Regions from separate parts of the Homo sapiens genome. Here region 1 is linked to region 2. The links come from fine-mapping of genetic effects on gene expression. A gene starts in region 2. The other region holds a variant in brackets. All regions are shown on one strand. Distances are from middle to middle.

Region 1 (5,379 bases), 30 kb before region 2:
CCCATGTGTAAAACCAGGCATTGGACCTTCTGAATATACAGGATTCCCTGGAGCACTCAAGAGCCTTTGTGGTCTGCTCCCTGCCCACCTTGCCAACCAAGGCTAGAACTGATGTCACAGTGATGTGCCTCTTTGCTTTGACACACGCTCTTCTTGCTGCCCTGAAAGGCCTTGGCCGCCTTTCCACCTGTTTCTACTTGCCCTGTAGAGCAGTGTAAGTATCATCTCCCCAAGAAGGCCTTTCCTAAGACCCCTATCCAAAGCTGATTTTAATGCTCTTATTCTATGCTCCAGAGCACTCCATTCTTGCCTCTATCATAGCACTTGCCACTCTACTTACAGTGTTCTTACTTGTCTGTCTTTTCTAACTTGACTTTGAGCTCAAGAACAGAGACCTAATTAAAGGCATCTTTGTATTGCTAGGACTTAATGTGGTACCCAGCATATAGTAGCAAAAAAAAATTGTTGAATGAAAAAAATATATGATACATGAATAAGCGATAAGAGAATGCTATACCAGATGTGGGACATACCATGTATATCAGTCTGGGTTCCCACAGGAAACACATGCACACTCAAACGGGTCACTGAAGAGAATTTAAGGAATGCACTATTTATGAAGATGTAAGAGATAAGATAAATAACAAGAGATGGCAAAGCACCAGGACTAGCAAAATTAGGATGCTGTTCCCACCTCTCAGCCTGACTGGCAAGGGAGAAATTATTGGAATTCAAGAGCCATATAGCCCAGGAAGAGGGGCCACTCACGGATGCTGTGGCCTTAGATGTAGAAATACAGCCACTGTCAAACCACAGCCTGGCAGGAGGGACCCCGGGGAATAAATATTGATTTCTCTCTCTTCCCACCTTCTGATCGCCTGCAAGTGCCTCCTGTTGGTCCACCCTACTGGAAGTCTGAGCTGGGCAGAGAAGCACCAAAAGTGGAGCTGGAGGAGCAAACAGAATATCCAGCACACTGCAGAAAGCTGAGATTGGTATTCTTCTACCGCATGGCTACTCCTGCCACCAAGGGGAACACAGAGTAAAGTGACAACACTAATTCAGGTAGACTTTTTTTGTGTGTGTATTTTCTTGAGTTATTGAAAATTTTAAATTTTTTTATTATGGTTAAATATACAGAACATAAAAATTTAACACTGTTACCATTTTTTAAGTGTACATTTTAGTAGCATTAAGTATATTCACATTGTATAAACATCACCACCAATACCTCCATAACGTTTCCATCTTCCCAAACTGAAAGTCTGCATCCATTAAACAATAACTTCCCTCTCTCCCCTCACCTACCTCCTGGTCACCATCATTCTACTTTCTGTCTCTATTCATCTGACTACTCTAGGTACCTCCTGTCAGTGGAATTATACAACATTTGTCTTTTTGTGTCTGACTTATTTCACTTAGCATAATGTCTTCAAGATTCATTTATGTTGTTGCATATGTCAAAATTTCCTTCCATTTCAGGGCTGAATAATAGTCCATTGTGTGTATATTTGTGTGTATGTGTGTGTGTGTGCCACATTTTGTTTATCCATTCATCTATTGATGGACACTTGGGTTGCTTCCACCTTTTGTTATTGTGCATAGTGCTACAATGAATGCAGGTGTATAAATAATGATTTAAGTCTCCGGGAATACAACCCAGAAATAGAATTGCTGGATCATATGGTAATTCTATTTTTAGTTTTTGAGGAACCACCATACATCTTTCCACAGTGGCAGCACCACTTTATATTCCCACCAGCAATGCTTACAAGGTTTCCAAAGTCTCCACATACTCACCAACACTTGCTATTTTCTTCTTTTTAAAATAATAGCCATCCTAATGAATGTGAAATAGTATCTCATTTTGGTTTCCTTTCACATTTTCCTAAAGATTGGTGATGTTAAGCATCTTTTCAATGTGCTTATTGGCCATTTGTATATCTTCTTTGGAAAAATGTCTATTTGATTCTTTTGCCCATTTTGTATTGGGTTGTTTGGTTTTTGTTGAGTTGTAGGAGTTCTTTTTATATTCTGGGTATTAAGCCCTTATTAGATATGTGATTTGCAAATATTTTCTACCATTCTGTGGGTCGCCTTTTCACTCTATTCATAGTGTCCTTTGATGCACAAAAGTTTTTCGTTGTGATGAAGTCCAATTTATATGTTTTTTTCTTACATTTCCTGTGGCTTTGGTGTCATATCCAAGAAATCATAGCTAAATCCAATGTACATTTTTTTAATGAAGAAAAACAAGAAGAAAAAAATCAAGCAAATATCTATCTCTTTTGATGGAGATTTGGGCCATGGTGGTAGGACTTCTGCCAAAATTTAGTATGCAGCAGATATAGAAAGCCCCTTTCCTACCGCAAATAATGCTGGATAACATAGAATCTTCCCCTTCCCCTCAAAAAGTTAAAATACTTGGTCAATTAAAAGGCAGAAAGAGAATTATTCAGGTGCCGGAAGCACAAAGGGAACTGATAGCTGTCACGGTGCCCCAGAGCGGAGGCCACGTGGCCCAGGCCATGGTGGAGAACTAGAACTGAACTCTTAGTGAAAAGAGAGAGCTGCTAAAGAGCTGCCCTGTCACTGATGGAGACTGGAAAGCTCAGTCCACCACCTCTCAAGACACAGAATGAGCCCTGGAGCGAGGCAAAGTCATCTGAGAGAAATCAGAGCACTGCACCTGTGTTCCCAGAAGGCATGGGGTTCAAACACATGCTATTAAAGAAATAAAACAAAAACTACCCCAGAGTTGTAAGCGCCATAAAACCCTAGACAAATGCAAAACCACCTCGTGGAGATGCCTCCAGACATTTGGAGGATGTCCACAGGAGATAAATACACTTAGAATAGGCTCACAGGCACACGAGGGATGACAAGTACATACAACAGACTAGAGACTTCACACTGAGTAACAAGAGGGAGAGCAATCTGGAAGGATGTTAGCATGAGTGTGTTTAAAATGGTCAAATAAA[T/G]CAATAGATCAAATGCATAAAACAAGAACAAAAGTATATATATATAAAAAAAGAACCAAGTGTATAATTGAAATATACAGCCGTGCAAATGGACCCTGAAGCTGGGCATTCCACCACCAATTTGTGACCCAGCTCCGGCTATAGGGGAGAGGATCCCTCCCTGCCCCCCTGCACCTCAGGAAGACTTCATTGACTCACTGCACCCACCCACCTTACAATGACCCTATTGTACCATCCAGCAACCTGGTGAGAGATGTGTTGGGAATTCAGGCAGAGAGACTGAGAGGACCACACCTGTGCAGCAACCGTGATAATTCATGCTTTGTTTCTTGGCCCTCCCTAATCTCCTAAATCTCTCCCAGTCACCACCAAGAAAGAAGACTGGGAGGGAGAGGCAAGTCTGCACTGGCCGCAAACTGGATTCTGAGTGATTTGAGCTGCCTGTAAAGTTAGACAGTGGGGGCAGAGAGAAGCATCAGTAGTCCTGGTTCCCGGCCCCACCTCTCTCCACCGAGAAAAACGTTTCTGTTACCAGATTCATATTTTACCCTCACAATGACTTAGTGTCAACATTATCATTAAACATGATCCGCAGAGTCACTAGGGATTCTGGTAGGAATGCAAGCAAAGACAATGACTCCGGAAAGTTGCAAGTCCAGTCTGTAAAGAGACTAACTTCTGGCAAGGGAAGAAACACAAATCTGAAAGTTGGGAAAAGTGTAATTATCACATAGGAAGCAAAGGTTGCTTCATAAATGCTAGCTCACCGTTCTCCTCATCTCCTCACTACTAAGCATCCTCAGCTCCCTGCAACAAGGCTGCTTTCTCCTCCCCATTGCTGAAATTGCTTTCCCCAGAATCAAACAAGTCCTTACCTACCATATAGCCAAATCCAGCAGGCTATTCTCAGCCTTCATTGTCCTTGATGCTTAGCACTGGTAGATGTGGTTGACGGCCCCACCCTCTTGATGCCTGCAGAGGTGGGCTCCATGTGGCAATGAACTGAGGATTGCTCACAATGGAGCCCCTAGCCCAGAGCAGGGCCTGGCACCTAATAGGCACCCTGTGAATGCTCAGTGAAAGAAGGCATCCACTGCAAGGTCCTGGGGAACAAGGAATTCCAATGTGGCCCATATATTTTAAGTCATAGAGGATCCTAGATGTAAAAGGCCTTCAAAAGTGGCCACTCTTTTAAAGCATTATACTGGCAGCTGAGCCATGTTTCCCCATCATGGACACATCTAGAGGGCACTGCCTAAAACCATACACATCTACGCCCCTCCCCAGGAATGTGCAGGGGACTTAGCCTGGGGCATATGGGTGGGCAGAGGGGGGTGAACGATGAAAGCTGAAGAAAAGAAAACAGGTGGAAGGGGCCAGCAGGGTGGGAACAGAGAGAAAAAACAAAGCGGGGCAGGGAACGGAGGGCAGATGGGAGAAGAGAGAGAGAGATACAGATCTAGCCACTGAGGAAAAGGTCAGAAGAGAACACTGTCCTCTACTGAAGTAAAATGACTTCCACCTGACCATGGCACTGCAGGTCGTGGGCAGCACACGCTGGTCATGCTGCGATGTTTAGGACCCATGGCATCTTCCCTTCAAATCCAAATCATAATAGAGAGAGGACTCTGTCCTCATTGAGCCGGCAATATCATGGGATATTGATGCAATATGTATATTGCATAGATATATGCAATATACATATCTGTATGATCATTTCATCAATTCCTTCTCTTCAGGCTTCGCACCTCCCTGATGAGCCAGGTGACACAGACATAACAGAAGATTAAACAGAGAGGGATTGGACCTCAGGGAGTCCTAGCTAGTTTTGACAGGAAGCATAAGAGAGTGGTCCCAGAAAGCAAACAGGAGGTTCCCTTTAAGAGGGAACAGGCACTCCTCCACTCTCTGCAACAGAGCATGGCTGCTATGGGAGCCAAAGAGGAAGACAGCAGCTGGTGTTCATTGCACTGGGCAGATAGGAGCTGAGGAGGATGGAGACTCAGCTATCCCTGTATGGTACAGACATGACACTCAGCACACACAGAGAACCATAACAGCTGCCACACCCTGTGTCTAAGCTGGGTTGAATTTAACATATTGTGGCCAGGGGAATGCAGGCTTTTGGCCCAATGTAGACGCCAGAGAGAGTGTGCCTCCTAGATCTTTTTCATATGTTACCACCCATTATTGCTCCTGATTATTCAGTGTTACCTGGGGGCACGTGATTCCCGCACTTTCTCAGCCTCCTCAACGTAAACATCGTCATCCACATCTTCATCATTTTCTGTAAATACAGGAATGTTCATTCAGATATTTCTCACTTCACATTCTGCAAGCATAGTCAGCCCAATGTGTGCAGACACATGAACATCTAGGCATGGGTCACCATTCAACT
Region 2 (5,379 bases):
GCCTATAATCCCAACACTTTGGGAGGCCAAGATGGGTGAATCACATGAGGCCAAGAGTTCGAGACCAGCCCGGTCAACATGGTGAAACCTCATCTCTACTAAAAAAAACAAAAATTAGCCAGGCGCTGTGGGACATGCCTGTAATCCCAGGTACTCGAGTGGCTGAGGGACAAGAAGCACTTGAACCCGGGAGGCGGAGGTTGCAGTGAACAGAGATCACACTGCTATGCTCTAGCCTGGGCGACAGAGGGAGCCCCTGTCTCAAAAAACCAAAATAATAATAACAAATTAACCTTAGATTACTGTAAATTTACGTTATAAACTTGGAAATTCCTTTTTCTTTCCTTTTTCTTTTTTTTTTTTTTTTTGAAATGGAGTCTCACTCTGTCTCCAGGCTGGAGTGCACTGCCACAATCTCGGCTCACTGCAACCTCCGCCTCCCGGGTTCAAGCGATTCTCCTGCCTCAGCCTCCCAAGCAGCTGGGAGTACAGGTGCGTGCCACCACGCCCGGCTAGTTCTTTCTCTGTAAGATGGGGTTTCACCACGTTGGCCAGGATGGTCTTGACCTGTTGACCTCGTGATCCGCCCGCCTCGGCCTCCCAAAGTGCTGGGATTACAGGTGTGAGCTACCACGCCCAGCCTAACTTGTAAATTCTTTAAATGTTTGACTCTTTTGTAATAACACTTAGCTTAAAGCACACATTATACAACTGTAGAAAATATTTTCTTTCTTTATATCCTTCTTATGTAAGTTTTTTCTATTTTTAAAATTTTTATTTTTTTTTAAGTTTTTTGTTAAAAACTAAGACACACACACACAAAAAAAAAAAAAAAAACTAAGACACAAACACACGTATTAGCCTAGACCTGCACAGGGTCAGGATCATCAATATAACTGTCTTTCACTTCCACATCTGGTCCCACTGAAAGGTCTCCAGGGCAAAAACACACATCTCCTGTGATAACAATGACTTCTTCTGGAATACCCCCTGAAAGACCTGCCTGAGGCTGTTTTTTAAACTTTTTTTTAAGTTTTACTGTTTTTTTAATAAGTAGAAGGAATACACTCTAAAATAATGATGAAAAGTATAGTGTAGTAAATACATAATGCAGTAACAGTCATTTATTACCATTATCAAGTATTGCATACTACACATAATTGGTATGTGCTATATTTTTATACAACTGGCAGCACAGTAGTTTGTTTACACCAGCATCACCACAAACACATGAGTAAAGTATTGCGCTAGACAGCTACAAGGTCACTAGGCAACTGGAATTTTTTTAGCTCTATTATAATCTTATGGAACCACTGCTGAATACATGATCCATCGTTGGCTCAAACACTGTTATGCAGTGAATGACTGTACTTAATTTTATAATCAGTATGATCACAATTATGCAAATATTTGTTACATATGCATAAAAAGACTAGAAATATGAAAATGTTTATCTTTGGCTCATGTATTTATAAATCATTTTTTATACATTGATATATTTTCCAAGCCTTCTAAGAATGGAATCTTTGTACAGATTAAAAAGTTACAATAAGTGTTATTGTTGTTTTTAAATTTCTACCCAATGTTGCTTCCTGCAGAAATTATTCTGTGACCACTCCAAGAGGACTTGGAAGCCCCTCCTCAGTGTTCTCCTAGTATCCAATAGTATCCTCTACCATTCACTAAGCACACTGGATTTTAATTGTTTGCTTATCTAACGCCCAATACTTGGAACTCTTCAGAGAAAGAGACTGATTCTCTAATCCCTGAATTCCCAGGCCTACCACATACACTAAAGCACTCCTAAGGTCTGTGGACCAGATGAAGAAATCAGATGAGTAGGGGTACGCAAACCCAGGCATTCCCATTCTAAACCCAGTCGCATTGCAATCCCTGCAACAAAAGGGATCCGAGATTTCCTCCACTGGTGACTGTGACCTGGGGACTGGGAAGTACTGTATACAGGAAGATCTTGAAGAGCTGTCCCCTTGAATAGTCAGCACCAGGGTTGCACGGAAAGTAATAGCTGAAATCCAAGTTGGGTTTTCCTGGCAACAGCCAATATTAGTCAGAGGTGGCACTTGGAGGATTCCCCAGGTCTGCTCATTCCTTTAGGATCATTCATTCCTCCCAAGGCCTCCCTTGGGAACAAAGGAAAACCCCAGAGTTTGGGATTGGGCTCTTTTCCACCAACAGCTGCTAGTAGTTTGTATTTAACCCTGAGTCACAATTAAAATAAAAGAGGGCGGGCGGGGGAGGGGCGAGGAGTTGGTAAGCATCCCCTAGGAAACACTTAGGTTTTCTCTAAATTTATTCCAGAAAATTCTTCTAAAGGACTTTTCAAGGACCACAGCATACTGCCTTGGAAACTTAGTTTTTAACCTTTTTCTTTTCTTTTTTTCTTTTTTCTTTTTTTTTTTTTTTTTTGAGACAGAGTCTCACTCTGTCACCCAGGCTGGAGTGCAGTGGTGCGATCTCGGCTCACTGCAACCTCTGTCTCCCAGGTTCAAGCGATTCTCATGCCTCAGTCTCCTGGGATTACAGGCGCGCATCACCACTCCCGGCTAATTTTTGTATCAGTAGAGACAAGGTTTCACCATGTTGGCTAAGCTGGTGTTGAACTCCTGACCTGAGGTGATCCGCCCGCCTCGGCCTCCCAAAGTGTTGGGATTACAGGCGTGAGCCACCGCGCCCGGCCAGTTTTTAACACTATTAGCCACACTGAAACTGAACTATTGATCAAGTGACGCCACACAAAGGGGTAAATCCCCTGTTCAACAAAGGGTTTGTGACGCCCCTGGGTGCTGACAAGCCAAACCGCACCCTCCCTGCGGCACCTCGCGGGCCGGTGGGGCGGGAAGCCCGGCTTCTGGGGAGGTGCCGCCCCTCCACTGGCGCAGGCCGCCGAGACCCCCAGACGGACCTCCTAGGGCTAATCTGATAGTGCCTCTGAGGTCGATAGGACTCCACGTGCCACTCCCTGCAGGGTCATCCAGCAAGTAATTCCTAGACCCGTAGGTGGCCGCAGAGCCGGTTACCTCTGGTTCTGCGCCAGCGTGCCCCACCCGCAGGACGGCCGGGTTCTTTGATTTGTACACTTTCTAAAACCAAACCCGAGAGGAAGGGCAGGCTCAGGGTGGGGATGCCCTGAAATATTCGAGAGCAGGACCGTTTCTACTGAAGAGAAGTTTACAAGAACGCTCTGTCTGGGGCGGGCGAGGCCTCTGCGAGGCGGGTCCGGGAGCGAGGGCAGGGCGTGGGCCGCGCGCCCGGGGTCGGGGGAGTCGGGGGCAGGAAGAGGGGGAGGAGACAGGGCTGGGGGAGCGCCCTGCCGAGCGCCCGCCAGGCTCCTCCCGCTCCCGCGCCGCCTCCCTCTACCCACCCGCCGCACGTACTAAGGAAGGCGCACAGCCCGCCGCGCTCGCCTCTCCGCCCCGCGTCCAGCTCGCCCAGCTCGCCCAGCGTCCGCCGCGCCTCGGCCAAGGTGAGCTCCGCCCGGCCCACGCGCCCCTCCTGGGTAGTCCCCAGGCCCGGACCTGCTGCCCGGGGAAAACCCTGCACCCGGCTTCGCGGGGCGTCCGGAGCACCGCGGGGCTGGGCGGGGAGCGGCTGGTGGGGAATCCGCTGCTCAGTGCTCCGGGCCACACCCAAACGAGGCCAGCAGCGCCCCTCCCCGGCCCGGGCGCGGCCGCCCCCAGACCCACGCGGACCAGAGGAGGGGGCACTTGTTCTTTAGGAGGGGACCGTGGTATTGGTGCGCCTGAACCTCTTCCCTCCTCCCTTTATGTTTGCGTTGCTTTACTCCCACCTTTCCTACTTTCCCACTCGTCTCTCGGGTTACCGAATCCCTCCTACACGCCCCTGCCCTGGCTGGCGTGTTTCTTGGTGGGTTCCGCTCGCAGGCCGGGTCTGCATGTTCGTAGCCTGCTCCCGGCTGTACCGCCCAAGTAGGCGCGGGTAGGACGAGTAGGCAGCTGGGGCGTCCCTTCCGTAACCCTTAGTCCGTCGGCCAAACAGGCGTTTCTGGTCGGGGCTTCCTGTTGTCTGCTCGACGGAAAGGGTCTTCCTGCTGAGGGAGGGAGGTCCACTTGTTTTCTTTCTACAGCAGTTTGGCTGGGGTTTGTGGGAGAGGGCCCTGTGTGACGTGGTTTCTCTACTGAAAGGGTTCCCTTGCTGTCTTAATAAGTGGAACCAGAAAGAGATGGAGGAAGAGCAGGCTTGATGAAGGATCTTCCAATCATAGATTAATTTGGCCCGGTGCAGTGAAACAGACAGACGTGCCTTTGGTACTTGGTTCACCACCTGTGCTTTGGCCGAAGGAATGGCGCTGCCCCTAGCCGTGGACACTGCTGCCTGTCCAGCCTCAGTCCAGCTCTGCCTAAGTGAAACCAGGAGCTCTGCCTTGTTGGCTGGGGTGGAATGCAGAGCGCTCCAAGCCAGGCCAGCACAGGGGAGCCCTAAGCCAGATTCTGGGATGCATTAAGCCCACCCCGTTTTCTGCCCCCACCCAGTTCCGTCTCTGCGGGAGCTTCTGCAGGGCGTGGTTAGCACAAAGGGCTCCAGGATTCTCCCAGTGGTCTGAGGCCTGTGACTCAGCTGTGAGACCATGTGGGTGTGGCCGGTTGCAGATACTCTCGGTGGATGGTTTGGACAGAACACTCCCTGAAGGAAAAGGAGAACTGTGCCATCTCAGAGGGCATTTTCCAAGAGGAAGTGAGTCACACCTGGTCTGGCTGCCAGTCTGCAGGAGAGGTTTCTCGACTGAACTGCCGGTGAGGGCAGTAATTAGATCTGCAGGGCCTTGGCGAGACCGCTTTTCGTTATCGGCCAGTATGCGCCTGGCAGCCTGCCTCAGCCTTACTTGGGAGGTAGCTTTTCCCGCTAAGAGGTTTGCAGTTGTTGCGGATATTTTTCCCCAGAAGCTTGAGTTTCAGTCTCCAGGAATGGAGTTTTATGTTGTGCGTTTTAGGTGAGGCCAGGCTCATGGAAACACCCAGTCGGTGATCTTTGCCTCCAACATGTTTCAGCAAATTGCAAAAGATAATGCCAGGGGTTGGAGTGGGAATGAGTTCATATAACTTATTGGAAGTTTCTTCATCGGCCCTGCCCCCACAGATTCCTATCCAGTTTCTCTTTAATCATCCCTTCCAAATGGTGTATTTGTTCCTTCACAGCCAGAGGATAGTTTCTTCACTGTGGCCCTTGATCCACCATTTGGAGTTTCTTATCTAGGTTCTTACAATTTTTTTGGTCTACTGGGCATGAAGCAATTTTTGGGTCTTACCCTGCTTTCTGGGTGATGCTCTTCCTAGCTTTTCTCCGACACATCATATAGGCCCCTTTCCTCCCGTGTGCTGGCCAGCCTCCTAAGCAGCCACT

Alleles and levels. Alleles are on the strand shown, and positions count from the first base shown. SD is a standard deviation of normalised expression in the study named.
For the expression in aorta of the gene that starts at base 3,377 in region 2, G is the high allele of the variant in region 1 and T is the other (small effect, 0.29 SD a copy in GTEx).

What was found. PIP is the estimated chance that this variant, and not a neighbour inherited with it, causes the effect. A credible set is the group of variants that fine-mapping cannot tell apart.
Region 1: its variant is the best candidate, but not a certain one, in a credible set for the expression of S100A10 in aorta (GTEx, PIP 0.59).

What each region holds. Positions count from the first base shown.
Region 1 is chr1:152,022,326-152,027,704 of GRCh38, reverse strand. It overlaps LOC105371442 (a long non-coding RNA gene), which reads left to right and starts at 117. Exons shown (of 3, transcript XR_001738235.2): 1 at 117-214; 2 at 886-1,065. It also overlaps the pseudogene NBPF18P. The variant T/G (reference allele first, on the strand shown) is at 2,982.
Region 2 is chr1:151,991,857-151,997,235 of GRCh38, reverse strand. It overlaps S100A10 (S100 calcium binding protein A10), which reads left to right and starts at 3,377. Exons shown (of 3, transcript NM_002966.3): 1 at 3,377-3,484. RefSeq lists silencers at 2,950-3,079, 3,210-3,259, 3,270-3,569 and an enhancer at 4,138-5,337.